Regions from separate parts of the Homo sapiens genome. Here region 1 is linked to region 2. The links come from fine-mapping of genetic effects on gene expression. A gene starts in region 2. The other region holds a variant in brackets. All regions are shown on one strand. Distances are between the middles of the regions. Region 1 holds the start of ZCCHC18 (zinc finger CCHC-type containing 18). Region 2 holds the start of SLC25A53 (solute carrier family 25 member 53).

The links.
Region 1: its variant is fine-mapped to the expression of SLC25A53 in whole blood (TOPMed, PIP above 0.99). The same link has a PIP of 0.9 or more in T cells, blood mononuclear cells and lung.

What each region holds. Positions count from the first base shown.
Region 1 is chrX:104,105,874-104,115,850 of GRCh38, reverse strand. All of the region lies in intron 1 of SLC25A53 (solute carrier family 25 member 53), which reads left to right. It overlaps ZCCHC18 (zinc finger CCHC-type containing 18), which reads right to left and starts at 3,328. Exons shown (of 3, transcript NM_001143978.3): 1 at 2,850-3,328; 2 at 2,605-2,656; 3 at 9-2,417. The coding sequence starts at 1,739. The coding sequence ends at 528. RefSeq lists a silencer at 3,378-3,607 and an enhancer at 4,805-5,044. The variant A/C (reference allele first, on the strand shown) is at 4,962.
Region 2 is chrX:104,151,689-104,161,665 of GRCh38, reverse strand. It overlaps SLC25A53 (solute carrier family 25 member 53), which reads left to right and starts at 4,657. Exons shown (of 2, transcript NM_001012755.5): 1 at 4,657-4,788. It also overlaps a transcript of FAM199X not described here. RefSeq lists an enhancer at 4,584-4,883.

The DNA.
Region 1 (9,977 bases), 46 kb after region 2:
ACATGAAGTTAGATATTTATATATATTCATCGACATAGAAGTCCACGAGATACATTATTTGGTGAAAAATACACAGTATAGAACAGCACTTATATTTGGTCACTCTTATCTATACATATATCTATCTGGGTACACAGGTACAGGGAGATATCTGGAAGGACATTCACCAAAGGGCTGACAATGGTTACAAAAGGGTGCTGAGTTTCAGGTAATTTGTACTTTAGTTTTTGTATCTTCCTTTATTTTTGAAGGTTTAATGAAAAGATGCTCCTTTCATAAAAAGTATAAAGTCATCAAAGAAATAGACACATGGAGAATAGACCCTTAAGCCAGCAGAGAAGAGAGCAGGGACAGAGGTCACACCATTCCCCATCCACTGTGCTGGTATGCAAGACCTCTTCTCCTTCCCAAAGGAAAACTGCTTTGTGGATTAATTCATGCAGTTAGAAACCCACCCCCCTCTCCTGTTATTCCCATTACCAGACTCTGAATACAGTCAAGGACTCATTTAGGGCTGGACTAGATCCTTACTGTGGCTCAGAAGCATCACTGTGTTCTCCAGGGACCTCTTTTGACCTCTCCTCTGTATGTGTCAGCTCCTGCAGGGTGATGATCAGATTCTCAAAAACCTGGGCCTTGTTGCTCTCATTGTCACAGGTTTCTTTTGAGTGGCCCTCCTCCCCACAATATGAGCAGCGGGTTGTGTATTTTCGCTTCCTGGCTCTACGAATATTCCCAGGACCATCATTCTTATACCCAGAACCACCACTGGTAGAAAGAGACTGAGCCCCAGAATTGTTGGGGGAATCAATAACCAGCACTTGATCCAGAGGTCTGGCTCTTCCTCTGAAGGGAGGGGCACCTGTAGGTGTCAGTGAAGGGTACAGAGACACCACCAGGATCACATCCTCATCAGAGTCATCAAGGGTATCATCTATTTCTATCACGTTGCAGTTACAGTCAGCACTGCTGATTGCTATTGGCTGGGCGCCCTGAAATGCCACAGGGCTGGCTGCCCTCTCCATTATTGGCTCAGACCTTTTCGGCCGCTTCCGTTTAATAAAAGCATCATCCCAATCCTCTTCCTCCCTTATCATCTTGATTAACTCCAGGAAATTGGGAAGCCGCTCCTGCTTATTTGCATACATCCTGAGAAGATGCTTAAGCCTGAAGCGCAGGTCCCTATTCAGCTCAGCGCCTAAAAGAAGCTGTTGCAAGCGAGTCTGGTTTGCATCTTTCTCAGCTAGGATGCCTGCCTGAATAGCATTCTGGAGCTGCACCTCTAAACGGATCACATAAAGGGAGGCTTTCTCCCCTTGTGCCTGCAGGGTGTTAAAAAATTTACCATGGGCAGTCACACTGCTTTCAGACTCCCCAAACACCAATTTCATTGCCCGCAAGAAATCTGCTACACTTAGGTTGGGGTTGGCCGCCTGAAGCAAACGCATGACCTCCCGGGCAGGGCCCCTAAGTGTTTTCATCAAGCGCTTGAGTTTTTCCTCCTCAGACATACTCCAATCTGGCAGGACCTCATTGACTTGGATCAGCCAGTTTTCAAAGGTTTCTTTCCCCTGGGCTGGCACCACTCTTCCTGAGAACAACTTCATGTTTCTCTCTGCCATTTTGACCACTAAAGGACAGAGACTCCTCCCCAGAGACCTCAACATGGAATGGGCCCAAGGCGGCAAAGGTGCATTCTGCTGCCTGCTGTTACCCACACACGCAGTGATGCTAGCCATGACTGACGACGATAGGGTATCTGAATACAACAAGATGCTCGCGCTTTTTGGAAAAGCCTTATCTGCAGGATTCTCCAAAGCAACGTTCCTGGGCTGTGCCTGCCTTATATTTCAGTAGGGATTCTAAGGAAAGTAAAAAAGGTTAATAAGATAGTGGGCTGTGGGGAAGCAGTCTGCAGTAGCATTCTCTATCTTCCTGAATAGCCTTGCAGTGCATTTTATATCTGCCCAGTGCCTTAACAATACCCTGCAGGAGACTGGCAATTACAACATTCCAGAGCTAGCAGGTGTCCCTGGGCTAGTAGGTAGTTTTTCAGAGCCACATCCATCCCCTCCTGCCTGTACTCCAGGAGGGGCGACAACTGTTGCTTCTAATTCTAGATGACATAGTGTTGGGAGCTGATACTGGGCCCTCAAAACGGAACTCAATGGTTGTGTGTCACAGATTTATGATAATAAGAAACCATTAACCTCATGGCCTCAGGTCTCAATCACACCCCCTTGTCAACGTTTCCCCCGTTATTTCTCAGATTCTTACATGAGCTCGGAAACTAGCGTTCGCCTTTATTTTACGTGCAGCCTCTGCAACAGGTGCCTGCCGTGAGAAAATTAGCCTCTGGGGTACGGCCGACTTTTGTCCACTGGGTGTCGCAGATCCCAGTCCTCAGGGCCTCAAGACTGTGCCGCGAAGGAGGGAAAGGAAGGGTTGGAAGCAGCTTCATCTGAAAACCTGATACCTCCCCTCCACCGCCTCCACTGTCGCCAGGCGGAAAATTCCCTCTCCCATCTTCTGAACGCAAGCCAAAGTGCCTCCTGCCCTCCCGCGCATCCCCCTTACATTTCCTCCGGGAGACCCTCGCCCTACCAGCTCTGCAATCCGCCGCACAGAATTCAAGTTCGGATTCGGCTTTGATGACCTGCCAGGGAGAAAGAGACTAGAAGTTGGATAACCTCCCACCCTCATATTCCTTCCCAGGAAGAGATGAGGAGATGCAAAAGGGGTTCAAGACAGCTTGCGATCGTCTCCTCCCGCCCCTTGCCACCTCCCCGAACACACCCCGCCCCCGACACCCAACAACACCCCCGACCTACGACAACACCCCCACCCACCTTAATCCAGGCAAATCCTAAATCCTATCCAGTCGGCAGCATCCAGATGAACCACAACTCCTTCCTCAGCGCAACCAGGCCAAGGGAGTGCTCCATCCCCTGCCTCGCAGTTACTGATTCTCCAAGCCGGGCGCCGCCCAGTCCTGGCGGGGCTTCCCCCACCCCTCTCCGCGCCGGGCAATCGCGCGTTCTTTCTTTACTTGTGCTCCACTGGTGGGCAGCATGTGCTCCCGCGTCCACAGCTCTGTTTCGCCTTCCGGTCCCCGTAGCTCTGCAGGGGAACGGGATCTCTGCCGCCTCCTCGGCCGCTAAGCGACCCGGGGCTGCCCGACCTAGCGAGTGCGCACGACCGCCCAGCGAGGGGTAGCCGAGTCGAGGCAGCACGGTTCCCAAGGCAGCCAAGGCTGCGCCCACCCTCCAGTTCGGCCCTCCGGGCAGCCGCGGTTGCTTTCAGTCTCTGGCGACTGAGACAAAAGAGCGTGACGGGCCGGGCGACGCGGCCAATCAGCGGGGCGAGGGGGCGGCCTCGCCGCACAGCCTCCGGCCCCGAAGCTACTGCTAGCAAGAAGGGGGAGCGGGCCGGCTGGCCGGCGGGCCGGCGGGCGGGGGCTGCGGCAGACAGGCGCGGGAGGCGGCACGGCGTCAGCAGCTCGGACGCACGGACTGGGCCCATTTCCCTTTCATCCGTGAGTTTGCTGCTAACCCATCTCTTCCCTTCTCCCTATCCCCTTACACCTCGGCTCTCCTCCGGGCTTTTAGACCGGATACCTTAAACACGAGGTGGGACAGAAACCAAGTGAACAATGAGAGTTCCTCACCTTTGTATAGGGGGAAGCGGGGAAACAGCGTTTACTGAGTGCTTTCTGTGTGCAGAGGCGCCTGCATGGACATCTCCTTTCCTCTTCTCAGCAGCCGTGTGAAGGAGGTAGTAGTGTGCCCATTTAACAGGAAAGGACTGAAGCACCCAGGCAGTACAGTTAGGAAGTGCAGAGTTAAGAGCTCACACCCAAGTCACCATGTCTGACTTCAAAGGCTGCCCCTTGCCAGCACTCCTCTATTCTGTCAGATTAAGGGATAGTGGAGAAAAACCAAAGCCAGATGGGAGGACCAACTTGGGATTGCATAGAATTGGTGAGCAAGAACCATTATCTCCATTTCACAGATGAAGAAACTGAGCCAGAGAGAGACAGGTTACTAGTTTTGGCCTGTATCCTGCAGCAAATAAGTTACAGCATCCAACCTAGCACCGTCTGTTGCTCTCTAGATGCTAATTCGTTGCCCTGCAGCGCTGCCTGGAGAGTATTTTTGCACAGGTAGTCTCAAACCATCTCAACAGCAGTCTCAATGTGATAATAGTGCTGAGGGAGGGGGTGAGGAGGTAGTGGGGAGAGGGCTGAGGGAAGATGAGGGCAACCTTTATGGTGCCCATTGTACAGAAGAGGAAACTCTTCTTGGTACTTTTCTTTCTTTCATTTTTTTTATTAATCTTTTTTTCTTTTCTTCTTTTTTTTTCTTTTTACACAACAAGCTGCCTGTTTTATAAAAGCAACATAATTTCGACAGCCCTTTGTGACCCCAAAGAGGCCAGGCTCAGAGAGGTAAAATGATTTGTCTGAAAATACAAGGTGAAGCCAAAATTTGAACTGAGTCTCTGAATCCAGAACTCATGCTATTAACCAAAGTGTGAGTACAAGGTGAGCTGCCTCAGAATCATTTTGGAGAGCTTGTTATAAATGTAGATTATTGGGCCTTACCCCTGGGGGATTTTGATGTAGTAGGACTAGGGGTGAAGAGTGTGATTTGTAGTTTTAACCAGCCCTGTAGTTGATTCTGAGGTGTAGAGAGATTCATGAACCACTTTTCTAAACACCACCACGTGATGCTGAAGGTTATAAGTAAATGGGCCTGCCATCAGTGTATCTGTCCATGGCATATCTGTCATGAAATGTAACTCCAGAGCACAGGTTCCTACCCGAGGTCCTTCCTGGAATTGTATGCAAAGAATCTGGACTCCGTACATTCTTCTGAGCCCACAGCTTTGCAGATTTTCAAATGGGTCTGTCATAACGTCTTCCTTCTTCAAGCCATGCTTGATGAAGAAGTGTGAGAAAT[A/C]AAACCCCATTTAACCTAACCCCCAAACCACAGCTCTCTGTTGCTGATATGGCTCTTTCATTTCCTGGCTCAAGGACAGGTTGCTAGGTTGCCCTTCTGTGAGCTCTTCAGGGTACTTCTCCTTTGCTGGATTTGGCATCACTGGCCCCAGAGAAGGAGCAACTCCATGGAAACGGCATGCAGGGCTGTCCAAAGTGAATGGCCATGAAGGCAGTGGCTGGAAAACCTGCTCCATTTTTCCCTGACTTAGAGAGCAGGTATTACTTCCTTTATGTATAGTGTGGCTAGGAGGCTTCTGTGGGGCTTGTTCTTGACTCCTGATGTTTAGAAGCAAGTAAACAGTCTGATGCCCTTCCGCTGCTGTTGGCTTCATCTTCAGTCTGCCAAGGTACTTCACTTGCTCCTTTCCGCCCTCTTATTTACAACCCCAAGATCTAGAGTTCCTTGGAGTAAACAATAAAAATTTGGAGATAAGCACCTTCCATCTCAGGATCATGGTCTGTGGATGGAACAGTGGGGTAGTGGTGGTGGAGGCTGGAAAGTGTGGATGTATGGAGAAGGCAAGTTGCTCACCTCACACACTTAGGGGTGATGCTGGCAGTTGCTCTTAGGTTTCCTTCAGACTTTTGCTTCTGCTCCCCCATCCCGTGACATCTGACCCTTACCTCCCAGAAGAGTCTTGTTCAGTGTTTAAATTGGCTTTATCACCAAATTAGGTATTTGCAGCTGGACTTGGTAGGGATGGAATCACATAGGACCAAGAATAGGTGTCAGAGCTCAGACAAAAATAATGACAGGAAATGGATTGTGTAAAGGTGCCAGGGTTGGGCTACTAGAACAAAGCGAGGGACTCTTCATGCAGGGATGGGGGTAGTATTTGCAACCTGGCTTCAATTGGATACAGGACATGGCCTCACATGTATGAGTGTGTTCCAACTGATGCCTCTAATGAGACCACATTTTCTAATTTCAACAAATAAACCTTAAAAGCTTGAAGGTTTGGAGATAAAGCTTTCAGTTGAAACAATAATAGCTGCCTTTGGCTGCCTGCCTCCTTTGTGCCAGGAACTTTCTGTCTGTTATCTCTTTTAAGCTTCTTATCAACCCTGTTGAGACAGCTATTGTATCCCATTTTGCAGAAAGGGAAACTGAATTTCAGGGACATTAAGTAACTTGTGTCAGGCTTCACAACTTGTAAGTGGAGGCACTGAGACTGCAGGCCAGGGATGTCGAACTCCAAAGCCCATGAAAACTCTTCTTTGCTGCCTTCCAAACAAGCAGTCCAAAATGCATTCTGTAGATAACCCAGTTCATTAGACCAATTGCAGCCTTTAGAACAATTTAATTGTTATCTTGCCTTTATTCCTATTATCTCATTTTTAAAAAATGAAACTGCTAATATAACTTATGAAGCAACTTATATACCAGGTGCTGTGCTAAGCACTTTCCATACTTTGTCTCATGCATCCTTCATGACAATCATTTTACATATAAGGATACTGAGGATCAGCGAGATGATGAAACTTGGCCAAGGTTATAAAGCTAGGAAGTGACAGAGTGAAATTCAAACCCAGGGCTGCCTGTATCCAGAGCCCATCTCTGTGCCCTACAACACAATGCAGCGGAGAAGACAAATGTGGTCCTCATCTTAAATGGGCTTCTCTCTGTCAACCACAGCTCTATTTCCTTCTCACCACATGGGGTAGGCCAGCCCCATGCACAACTCACACTCTTAAGCCTATGTGCCTTAGGCCACTTCCTCAGCCTAGAATGCTTGCCCTCACTCCCCTACCTAACAACAGCCTATTCTACTCTACTCAATTAAGGATTGAGTCATATGCCCCTTCTCAGGTGGAATAAATTGCTGTTGTCTTTTTGCTTCCACCTTCATTACTGTACCCTTTATTTTGTCTTTCTGTAGAGTTTAGCACACTGTTGACCTGTCTCCCAAGCTAGTTGACTAGATTTCTAAGCACTTGAGGGCAGGCACCAAGTTCTATTCACTCTAGCTCTATGGTGGTTTACCCACAATGATTTAGTGGATGATCAATACATGTTTGTGAGCAGACCAAAGGACTGGCTGAGAGATGCCCTGAATGAACAGACAAATGCATTCATTTGTGGCTGGATCCTGGGGCAGTCACACAGTCTACCCATGTGGACTAGACTGGCTGGGAGAGTCTGGAATCCTCTGGGCTCATTTTACTAGGCTGTAAACATAGGAGGCAGGTCATAGGGTACAGGTGATATCTGCTTAAGGCCAACTCTAGGTCCATTCTGTGGTCTATACTTTGAATTCATGTGAAGGGGCCAGGCTCTCCTAGATTGCTTATGTTGCACCTTCCTATTTGTGGAAGTAAGGGCTTCCCTGCCTCCCTTGGGAACAGAAGATTTGTTCCCAAATGCCCCTGTATCTGGTTATGGCTGTCCCGAGAGCATCCAGAAGGAGCATGCGTTCTGTGGAGACAGATAGTGAAGTCCAGAAGCATCTTTTTTTGATCCTTCTTATCAAGGCCACCATGTTATGGATTCTCAACCACTTTGTCTCATTTTATGTTATTAATCTCTGCCACAACGTTTTGAGGTGGATCTTAATACCCCTGTTTTGTAGCTGAAGAACCTGAGACTGAATGAAATGTCTTTTCCAAGGTCACACAACTAAGTGGCAGAGGCAGAATTCAGTCTCGGGTCTGTCTGCCCTTTCCAAAGCCTGGCATCTTAACAGAAAATACATGGGAGAAACACGAACTCCCCTCCCATAAAATGGAAAGGATTGGATTTATAAAATGGATTACATATTAAGGTTAGATGTTTCTCAATTATTGTTCACCTTTATTCCCCCAAAATGATTTACAAAAATGGCAGAAGGAGTTGGGGATTGAAAAGTACAATTCCTCTATCAACTATTGACCTGAATGCCCAATATCACCCCCCTCTGACAGATACAGTATGGAGATGACTAAAAATTATTTTGCCCTTTCTGCTCCATTTACAGCTCAGATGGGTAAGGCTCCAAGATGTCACTGAATTTCTAAAGGTCACACATCAAGTTGATAATAAAACTCACTTAGAATGCTGGTATCTCATACTACCCCACCTGCTTCCTGGCCTTTCTGGGGTAGGTGCGATAGTTGGGAGTCCTTGCACTGCCAAATCCTAGCCCAGTTTTCTTTCTGCTAAATCATCCTGCCTCATGGTGTCAGTGAACATGTTTATAAATGGTAGGGAGGAAATGGAACATTATTGCACTCTGAGGTAGAAGAAAGGACAAATATTTACTTCACCACCTGTCCTTATTTAGGTGAAGGTAAGACTTTGGAAAGAAGATCTTTGATAGGAGAGCTGAGGACTGTTGGGGGCTTCTGTAGATTTAGCAGCCTGGGTATCTGGGAGGAGTCCCCTTTGGCTCTGGAGAAATGGAAGTGGGGCTTCCAGGGGCCAGAGGTGGCCCAAAGGGATGCAAAGAGTGGGCCTCTTGAGTTTTTACTCCTGCTCAGTTCTCAGCTAAAGGGTCAGAGGCAGAGGGGTCCTCCCAGTGTACTGGCTATGAGGGTAAAGGAGGCTGAGGCTCAAGGCCATCATGGAATGTGGGGGTAGGGGGAGGTGGTTATGGGCAGAGTACAGGAGGCTGAGCCTCCATCTGCCTCCACCAAGAGGTGAGTGTGGCTCCAGGGGAGGGGCGTGGTGGTAAAGTGAGATTGTGAGAAAATGGATGGAGCAAAGGGGATAGAAATGAGAATGTGGGGATATAGATGGAACAGGGTGGGGTTATGAATGAGATTGTGGGGATGTGGATGGAGCAGGGTGGTATGAATGAGACTGTGGGATATGGATGGAGCAGGGGGGATAGAATGAGATCGTGGGGATATGGATGGGGCAGGGAGATAGGAATGAGATTGTGGGGATATGGATGGAGCAGGGGGTATAGAATGAGATTGTGGGGATATGGATGGAGCAATGGGGATAGGAATGGGATTGCGGGGAGATTGATGGAGCAATGAGATTGTGGGGATATGGATGGAGCAGTGGGGATAGGAATGAGATTGTGGGGATATGGATGCAGCAGTGGGGATAGGAATGGGATTGTGGGGAGATGGATGGAGCAGGGAGAAGGGGCTAGGGAAGAGCAGAGCTGATGGGAGTGATTTTGGAAGGAGTAGTACACCAAGGCGGATTCTTGGCCTGGCAGCCTCGGGAAGGCTGCATTGGGCTTCTTGCAGTGTGTGGCTTCTACTCCTCCCTGGGGACCTCAGCTTGGACTCTCTGGTTCCCCATTGGCCTGCTAGCTTAATTAGAGTCCCAACCTTCATGCCCCCATCACATAGCCCAGGGTTCTGTGTGAAACTTGTGGGTCTGCAGTTCCTGCCAAGCTTTGTGTCCCTGTCACTGTAGATGGAAGCCCTCCGTCCTGGCCATCATGCCCCTCCGCCTCTCCCCTGTCCTCCTGCCCCACACCCACACATCTCTGTTCCTTTCCCTGAGGTGGCAGCTCTGGCTTCTGCACACCCTGTCTCGTCAGCCAGGGACCCCCTCTTTCCTCTCTGGCAAACTCCCTCAGATCTGCACTGAGCATTCATTTTTTTTCTTTAGATCCCAAAATTCCTTCATATGTCCTGGCTTCCAAGTTGCTTCTCATACTAGCCATCTGCTTCCTGGCCTTTCTGGGGTAAGGAGCAATAGTTTGGGGTCCTTGCACTGCCTATTCTATCTAGTACAGTGGTTCTAAGCCGGGAGCAGTTTTGCCTCCCAGGGGACATTTGGCAAGGTCTCAAGATATTTTTGGTCATCACACTGTGTAAGTCACTACTGGTGCTACTGGCACGCAGTGAGCCGAAGCCAGGGAGCCTCTGAACATTCTCGAGTGCAGAGGACAGGCGCCAAGAATAAAAAATTATCCTGCCCAAAATGTCAATAGCACTGAGGTTAAGAAACCCTGCTCTATTATATAGCTACAGGTCTTAAAGGTTAGGCTTAGAAGTTGCCAGGTGCTGAGCCTTTAGGCACTGAACTTCCAGA
Region 2 (9,977 bases):
TTTCACCATGTTGTTCAGACTGGTCTCAAACTCCTAACCTCGTGATCCGCCCACCTCGGCCTCCCAAATTGTACAGGGGTGAGCCACCACGCCCAGCCTCTTTCTTCTTCTTTTTAAAAAGAACATAAGATATATTGTTCCCCCGTAAAATTCTATCCAGTCTAATGTTTAAGTACTTTAAAAATTTTAATGAATGGGGTAATTCACCATTCTTCAATTGCTCTTACCAAACCTTTGTTTAGCCATTGTTACAGATAAGTTAGGAAAGTCATATCTCCTCTTTGATGTATATGTGTGTTAAGCAAGTAGCTATGATATTCTTTCCTATGCTTTAATGAAAATCTTGTACACAACTAAAATACTCCATGAGACTTACAAATATTGTAATTTATTTGACTAATGTAGAAAGGGCTTTTCAGAAACAACCAACATTTCTCAGATCAGTATGAATTTTTGGTTTAATGATATTTTCTTAAGAAAATGTTTGTTTTAGTTACCAAAAGTAACCACTTAAAAGACCCTCCATAATCTGATTTTTTTGGAGAGGAAGATGATCATATATTTTGCTAAACAGCAAAAAAGGAATTAAAATAAATTATGATATATAATACATGTAAATAAAAATAATAAAAGGAACCAATTACAAGAGGTCATAGCAAAAGGAATGTATTAAAATATATTCAGAAATAGGTAATCCTAAAGAAAATTATTATCTTGGTTCTTTTATTGTAGCTAGAGGAATGGATTTAGTCAAGTGAGATTAGAATCAGTGACTATACATTATTTACTATGTAAATAATAGGATATATACTTTGGAGGAGATGCTAGATGTTTTGAAATTTTCATCCTTGCAAATATATATTTCAACAATCTGGTCATTTTCAACCTGAACATTTTTTTCAATCTGAACATTACTCTTAACTAGTACTTGTACATTTTTACAATATTATGATTGAAGTTTGTAAAGATGATCCAATATGTCTTCTGAATCATAGAAGAATTATTAAATTAGGATATGTTTTTATTATTTGCAAGCTGGTAATCCGGTCTGTTGTTGTTTCTTTTTCTTTTAACACTTCTAGACTAATCGGAGCATGCTTATCAGGTATCTAACCTTGGGCTCATTCTTTGATCATCTTTGACAACACAGAGTTTACACTCAACAAACATATAGCAACCAACAGCTGATAAATTTAAGATTCATGCTATTATAGCAGTGTCTATCACAAAATAATTGTGACTTAACTAAAATTTTAACAAATGCCACATAACTCTTTTTAATAAAAACATAATTTTTCCACAATGAAGCACAAACAGATATATCTTCATTTCTAATTTGATAGAATGTAGTCTGCTGGTGTCACCAAGACAGTAGATTTCAGGAATAGGCCAGATCTCATTTTAATCTGAGTTAGGACAGATGTTCAAGTTTGACTTAAGAGGTCTTATCCAGTTACATCTTAACTCACTCCTGACTTCCCCAGAGATGGGTACGATGGCTCTGCCTACAACAGAGGGCCTACAGAGGGACTTCTTTACATGATCCTCTGACAAACATGAGCTGAGCATGATGAGTATTAGGGTTCCCTAGAAGCAGAGCCTAAGGTGGGGCATGATTCTTGGGCCAGTGATTTAGAGCGAGTGCTCTCAGCAGCAGCGGAGTGAGAGAAGCAGGATATGGCTGGAGGAAAAAACCTAAGCTCGCTGGAAACAAGCTCTAGCCTAATCCCAGGAGGAGCTCTGGAGTAGGATTTACACCACAGAATTGGTCAACCTTGAGGCAAGGTACCCTTGTACTCTCATCATCAGTTAGTCATTGCTTTTGGCTGCAGGGTTGTGTGTGTAGGGGTTGGGGTTATTAAACAGAAATCTCCCAGGCAATGAACCTCTTCTGCAGAGTGCAATTCTGCAGAGAAGGAAGCAGCTGTATTCATCAGCTAATACCCACAGCAGCTGGGGGATGGATCTATCTGCCTTGTAAAGGGGGCCTGAACTGGTCACCAGCTGTGTAAAACACTATGGTATAGAAACACTGTCATATATATGTTAGGACCCCAGAACAGCTCTGAAGAAACAAATAACTGAAACATACTGAAGAAAGCACTGCAGAACCTGAACACTTAAATTATGTACGTAGAGCATTGCTTCTAAAAATATGCTATGAGTACGACTAAGGATGCTAGGAACACATCTCCCTTTCTAACATTGGGTTTACGAACATCCTCTCCCCTCAACTACCCAGTTTGCTTAGCAGTAGCAGCTGGTGGTGAATTCTGCCATTAGGGCAAGATGCCCAGCAAGGAAAGAACTGGGTTGGTTAGGAGAATTTAAGGCAGATGAAGTCTCTGGAATGGGGATATGGTGTGTAGGGTGAAAGGAGCTAAAAGGGAAAGGTTTCTTTGTGTATGAAACCCACTCACCAATCTCCACCATTTGTTTATTTCTACCGGCCCTAGAGACACTCTTGTTGGCTCGTCTTTCCTCTGCCAACACTTTTGCTTTGCATCAGGATTTTTCTCTTTCCTCGCCTCTGAAACTCGACTTCTCACAGCTCTACCCCTTACACTGACACTTTCTAATAGTTTGACAGCTAGAAATAATGGAGAAAATTAAGTAAAAAGTCTTTCCGTGCTACCTCTGTTATTTTTGTTTTTAAATTTGGCCAAGCCCAGACATGTGTGCTATCGTTGGGTGTTGGGGGAAAAAATAAAAGACAAGATGATTTGTCTGCAATTCAAACCCAAGAGGGTTTCCTAGGTGTGGAGTGATGGGTTCTGAAATGCCAAATGAGAAAGAAGGTCAGGGAGCTACAAAAGAGGTACAGAGGTAGGGACAAGGCAGTGCTTCATTTACCTTCAGCAAACCTGGTGATTTACCTTCTCCTTCAGTCCCTTCACCATCACCAATCCTTCCCCTGAAAAAACCATTGTGGACTGCCTGATGATAAGTTGGGAAGTGAGAGTGGGTAGGTGTGGAGCAAGAATAACAACATCCTGGGTACCGTACATTCTGAAGGAACAGAGGGAATTCCTGTTTTGTTTTAACCTGGGACAGAGGGGATTGGTTTGTTCTCTCCAGGCTGAGGCAGTAATTCCTGACTCTAGGGACTGCTGATATGGAAATTACTACTACCACTCTGGGTGGAGTCAGATGAGTATATTAAAGAGTCTCATTGTACTGTCCTAAAATAAGCAAGATCTTTGCTAATATCCAAGCTTTACAGAACGGTGGGATGAGGTGAAGGCCCTGTACCTTTATCCCCAGTGGTCTTCAGTACTATAGGAAGTAATGGGGCCTGTGTGGCACAGTGGAGGGCAATGAGTGAGCTGGTTATGCCAATTCCTACTATAGTCACCTCCTTGGCTGCCAGCCTTCAAGGGAGAGATCTTTGCCTTAGTGGGTTCTGCCCTTCTGCTTCTGAAGAGAACCTAGTCTTTCTGTATGGGCATTCAGGCAATTCTTGGGGTGGGGAGTTGGGGGAGAGAGAGCACTTGAAAAGAATTTATGGTGGCCTTTTTCTCAGTGATATTTGAGAAATACCAAGACACATCTGAATGTATCTGAGTTTAAGTCTTGGCTCTATTTGTTATTAGCTCTGTGACCGTGGGCAAGTTATTGATTTATATGCAATCTGACTAATCTGAGTTTTCTTAGCTGCTTTAAGCAGACAAAGAGGACAGGAAAGGGTAATACACTTAAGAACCAGCAAAGGGCTATTGTGAGGATGAAGCAATAACAACAAAATGGGTTTAAAGCACTTATCATAGTGCGTGGTCCATAGAACTGCAAACGTTGGATTTTGCTTATTTTAGGACAGTACAAAGAGACTCTTTAATATACTCTTCTGACTCCAGCCAGAGTGGTAGTAATTTCCATATCAGCAGTCCCTAGAATCAGGTATTACAGCCTCAGCCTGGAGAGAACAGGGCAATCCCCTCTATCCCAGGTGAAATGATTATTATCATTTATTATTTATTAGCCAGAGGTCTTAGGTGAGATCAAATTCAATCATTATAATTTATATTTCAATATACTGCTTAACTTCATGATAGGCAATGTTCTAGGTGCTCCTCACATGTGAAATTTTAATATTTTTACTGCAACTCTGGAGGTAAGTACTATTATTATACCAATTCTACAGATGAAAAAGCCAAGGAATAGCATGCTTGAATCACTTGCCCAAGATGCCATGTTTAGATAGTGGTACAGTGGGGATTCGAACGCGGGAGCTCAGGTTTCAAAGTCTGTGCTCTTTACATATGCAGCTAAAGAGTCAGACAAGAACCAAAAGGAGATGGAGAATAGAGGGTAGAAAGGGCACAGGTTCAAGGTGAAAGGTCAGAAACTGCAAATTCGGAGTTTGGGTTGGTCTAGCAGCTTAAAGGCGTCATCATGAACTGTTCACCTAAGTAAGTTAAGCTCCTGTTTGAGAATGACTGATAAGCTTGCAAGCCAACTTACAAACAAACTGGGGAAATGTTCCAATAGATGACTAAGTCTTTTAGGTCTTTTTACCTGTGTTTTTCGGTCTCTATACCAGATTAGTCGCCTGGCTCTCCCAAACAGACCGGCCAACTGACGTAGTCGCGAAACGGTTAATGTCGAGGCGGGGGCGGGGGAGGCGGAAATAAAGAGAGCGGAAGCAAAGAGGATTGTGGGAGCTCCGTTGTGCGTCGCTTAAGTGAGGGCGGCGGATGGGCGAAGGTCCGGTGACTGCGACTGTCGCTGCTTTCTGAGGCCACAGGAAAGGGGCCGTCGGTCGCCGCCATGACAGCGAGCGAGGCGGAGGTTTGTAGCACTTCTTATGGGCTGAGGGCGTAGACACATCCTGCTTCCAGCCTAGCAGGCAAACGGGAACGGAAGTGATAGGGGATCAGAAGTTGCGAGGGGATGAGGAGTAGGGGAAACTGACAAGCGGACGGACCCGGCGGCGAGAATTGATGGCGTAGCTGTAGGATTAAGGGGCGTGTCAACTGTGTTGTGTGTGTTGACACTGAGATGTGTGAATCCCCTCATTATTTTTAGCTGGGGACAGGCGGGGTCTATGGGGGAGGGGGCGGACGGATGAATGGAGGATAAAATCAGGGCGAAAACGTGTTGTCTGCTGGGCACCAGTACATCTGAGTCACATCTCAGCAGGATGATTTTATTGGAAAGATCTAGGTCCCTGGTTTCAGATTCTGCTATTGATGCGTTGATTGATTTCCCTTACCAAAATACCAAGTACCTGCTCTGTGCTGGGTACTGCACTAGAGGCTCCGGATGAGGAAAGGAATTAGGCTTTTTCCTCGACATTTACAGCCTGCCGGTTGCTATCTGCATTTGGAGACAGGCTATTACAATACAAGGAGACAGAGATAGATCCTGTGTTATGAAAATCTATTGGGTGCCACCGAACTCATCTGGGAGTTGAGATCTGGGACGGCTCTTTGATGCGGTGATTTAACATATATTTTGAAGACAAAATAAGCAGGGCAAAAACGAAGTGCAATTTTCCTCCAAGCACCTTCCCTCCCTGTTGAGGTGAACTGGAGAACTGAGTAGCATTTAAGGCCCAAAATTAGTGTATTTCTTTTTTTTTTTCTTTCTTTCTTTCTTTTTTTTTTTTTTGATAAGGAGTCTCTCTACTTCTGTCGCCCAGGCTGGAATGCAGTGGCGTGATCTCCGCTCACTGCAACCTCCGTCTGCCGGGTTCAAGTGATTCTCCTGCCTCAGCCTCCCGGGTTGCTGGGATTAGAGGCACCCACCACCACTCCCGGCTAATTTTTATATTTTTATATTTTTAGTAGAGACGGGGTTTTACCATGTTGGCCAGGTTGGCCTCGAACTCCTGACCTCAAGTGATCCGCCTGCCTCGGCCTCCCAAAGTGCTGGTATTACAGGCATGAGCCACCGCGCCCGGTCCCCACAACTAGTTTATTTCTGGTAAGAGCATTTGCCCATCACAATGGGACTTCCAGGCGCCTCTGGAAGAATCAGTCTTACGTGAGTGCAAAGCCTGCAAGCTCTGGGTAGGACTACGATGGAGGTGCTAGTTACTTGGTTTTCCAGCAAACTCGGTTCACAGCAGGGAATTGTGCACCCACCAGAAATCCTAAGCAATATTTCTCTGAACAAGAAAAGAAGCCTCTTTGTTTACCAGAGAAACAACAGTATAGCAGTCTAAGTCAGTGGCTCTCAAACTTTCCTGTGAATCAGAATCAGATGGAGCGTTTCTTAAAACCAAGATTGCTAGGTCCCATCCACAGAGTTGCCCCTACAGTTGGTCAGGAGTGGACCCCCGAATTTACATTTCTAACTAGTTCCCAGGAGATGCTGATACTCCTGGACATGGGGCCATACTTGGAGAACTATAGGTCTAAACGGAGCTGACAATAAATTGGAAAGAATATCTCCTGGAATCTCTTAGAACCCGGGAGGCAGAGGTTGCAGTGAGCCAAGATTGCGCCACTGCACTCCAGCCTGGGCAACAGAGTGAGACTCTGTCTCAAAAAAAAAAAAAGAATATCTCCCCTAGGGAAGGCTAGGCACACTCCTAAACGTCAGGCATGTCTGAATTCAGACACAGTAGATATGAAATAAAATGGACTTATTTGACACTGCTTAGAAAATCTTTTTATTTTTATATTTGTATAATTTTATTGTATATTTACAAATTGTATACATTTATAGAGTTCAAAGTGGTATTTTATATATATACAATGTAGAATGATTAAATCAAGGTAAATAACATATTCATCACCTAAAATTTTATCTTTTTTTACACAAAAATGACTCAACATGGAATTTAATAGTTTTTTTGTGGTGCTAACATTTGAAATGTACTCTTAGCTCTTTTGGAATATGAAATTTTGAAATATCACCACCATTCTATTCTCTGTGTTTGTGGGTTCCATTGTTTTAGATTCCACATACAAGTGAGAACATGAAGTATTTGTCTTTCTGTGCCTGGCTTATTTCACTTAGCATAATGTTCTCCAGGCTCATCAATGGACAGATTTTCCTGATTTTTGAAGACTGAATAATATTTCATTGTGTATGTATAGCACATTTGCTTTATCTGTTCATCCACTGATGGACACTTAGGTTGATCCCATAACTTGGCTATTGTGATAAATCCTGCAATGAACATAAGAGTACAGATATCTCTTCGACATACTGATTTCAAATTCTTTGGATATATACCCAGAAGTGGGATTGCTGGATCATATAGTAATTCTATTTTTAGTTTTTTGAGGAACCTCCATACAGTTTTCCATAATGGCTGTACTAATTTATATTCCCACCAACAATGTATAGGGTTGCCTTTTCTCCATATCCTGGCCTGTTATCTTTCACCTTTTTGATAATAGCCATTCTGGAAGGTGTGAGATAATATATCATTGTGATTTTAATTTGCATGTCCCTAGCGATTAGTGATGTTGAGCATTTTTTCTTATGCCTGTTGGCCATTTGTGTGTCTTCATTTGAGAAATGTCTATTCGGGTCCTTTGTCCATTTGTTAATCAGGTTGTCTTTTTGCTACTTAGTCATTTGAGTCCCTTATATATTTTGGACATTAACACCTTATTAGAAGTAGGGCTTGCAAATATTTTCTCCCAATCTGTAGGCTGTCTCTCCCCTCTGTTAATTGTTTTCTTTGCTGTGCGGAAACATTTTAGTTCGATGTAATTCCATTTGTCTAGTTTTGCTTTTGTTATTTGAGCTTTTGGGGTCAAACCCCAAAATTCATTGCCCAGACCAGTGTCCTGTAGTTTCTTCCCTAGGTTTTCTTCTTGTAGTGTTATGGTCTCAGGTCATATATTTAAGTCTTTAATAAAATGGATGTGTTTTTGTTGTTTGTATGTTTTGGATGGTCGAGCAAAGGTCATCTTCCTGAACTAAACAAAGCAAATTGTTTTTCTCCATTGTACTTGTCACAGTGACTTATACCATAAATTGTTTAAAAACACAAAGTAGCAGTTTTCTATTCAAATCCCTTGCTGATTTTTATATATTCAAGTAGTTGTTTACAGTGGAGTTCACACCTCCACTGTATCAACAACGAAAAATGAAGTGTTCCTAATTTCTGGTAATAAATTATGTTTGAGGTTAAAAATTAAAAAGACAATGTGACAAGCTAATTGACAGACAAAGATTAGTATAAGAAGTCAGAATTGGTAGGTAGTTCCACCCCCACCAATAAAACTCTCCCTTTAGAAGAAATACAGTTATTCACTGCATAGTGGCATTTTGGTCAACGATGGACCACATATATTATGGTAGTCCCAGAAGATTATAATGGAGCATATATAGAAACCTGATATACAGCACTTGATATTGGCATTGCAGATCAGTTGCGGTAATGATTGATGTTCATTATTGGTACTGGAACATTTTGTTTTCCATATGAGAAAAAAAAAATATATATATATATATACACACACTCTAGGTTTGTGTAAGTACAGTCTATGATGTTCTCACAATGAAATTGCCTAACGATGGATTTCTCAGAATATATTCCTGTTGCTATGCAAGGTGTGACTGAAATCATTTTATTTACTCTAGAACACAGAATCAGAAATCTCATTTTGTTACAGCTTAATTTGAAGCCTTCCTTTAGGGGGTGGCCCTAAACAGACTCCTGGAGGGTGGCAGTCCACAGTTATACCTCCCGTTCAAACCCCCTCCCATGACCCTGAAAAAGGCTAGGACACATTTTCAGAAATTTCACTAATCATTCTAGACTCTTGTCAATGCTTCATCCCAAATCTCGCTAGGCCAGTTACAAAACAAAATAAATGAAACCCCAAACCAAACACTCAGACACACATAAAAAGACAACCAAAAAGTCCATACAAACTGGCCTGAGTCTATTGTGAGTCTTTGTAGGGGCCAGCAAGGTGCTAGAATGGCCAGTGCCTTGGATGTTTCAGAAATCTGTTCTCAGGCTGGGCGCGGTGGCTCACGCCTGTAATCCCAGCACTTTAGGAGGCCGAGGCAGGTGGATCACCTGAGGTCAGGAGTTCAAGACCAGCCTGGTCAACATGGTGAAACCCTGTCTCTACTAAAAATACAAAAATTAGCTGGACGTGGTGGCAGGTGCCTGTAATCCCAGGTACTCAGGAGGCTGAGGCAGGAGAATCGCTTGAACCTGGGAGGCAGAGGTTGCAGTGAGCCGAGATCGCGCCATTGTACTCCAGCCTGGGCGGCAAGAGCGAACCAAGAAAATGTGGCACATATACACCATGGAATACTATGCAGCCATAAAAAATGATGAGTTCATGTCCTTTGTAGGGACATGGATGAAGCTGGAAACCATCATTCTCAGCAAACTATTGCAAGGACAAAAAACCAAACACCGCATGTTCTCACTCACAGGTGGGAATTGAACATTGAGAACATATGGACACAGGAAGGGGAACATCACACACCAGAGCCTGTCATGGGGTGGGGGGAGGGGGGAGGGATAGCATTAGGAGATATACCTAATGCTAAATGACGAGTTAATGGGTGCAGCACACCAACATGGCACATGTATACATATGTAACAAACCTGCACGTTGTGCACATGTACCCTAAAACTTAAAGTATAATAAAAAACAACACGAAACAAAAAAAACAGAAAAGAAATCTGTTCTCTATCATGTCCATATTCCAAAGGAGTCAGCGAGACAACCACATATGACTCCTGAAAATTAATCAACTTTTGCACGTGATTGGTGAGCCTCTCACTTAATGCTTGTGCACTTACCCTGCACCTCCACAGTAGTCCTCATCTGTCTAAATCCACACCTAGTCTTACAGGTAGTGTTATTTTCCGTGAAATGTGAGGAGATAAAACAAACTTATGTAAGTTTGAACTCTGTAGCTCCATTTCCTAAATGATGCCTGAGTAGTAATGATTTAATTTTGTTGCATGAACATTCAGTATCTCAGGGACCCTGAGAGTGGACAGATGGTTGTGAAGGAGAATTTTGGGCTATGGGTGTCAAAGC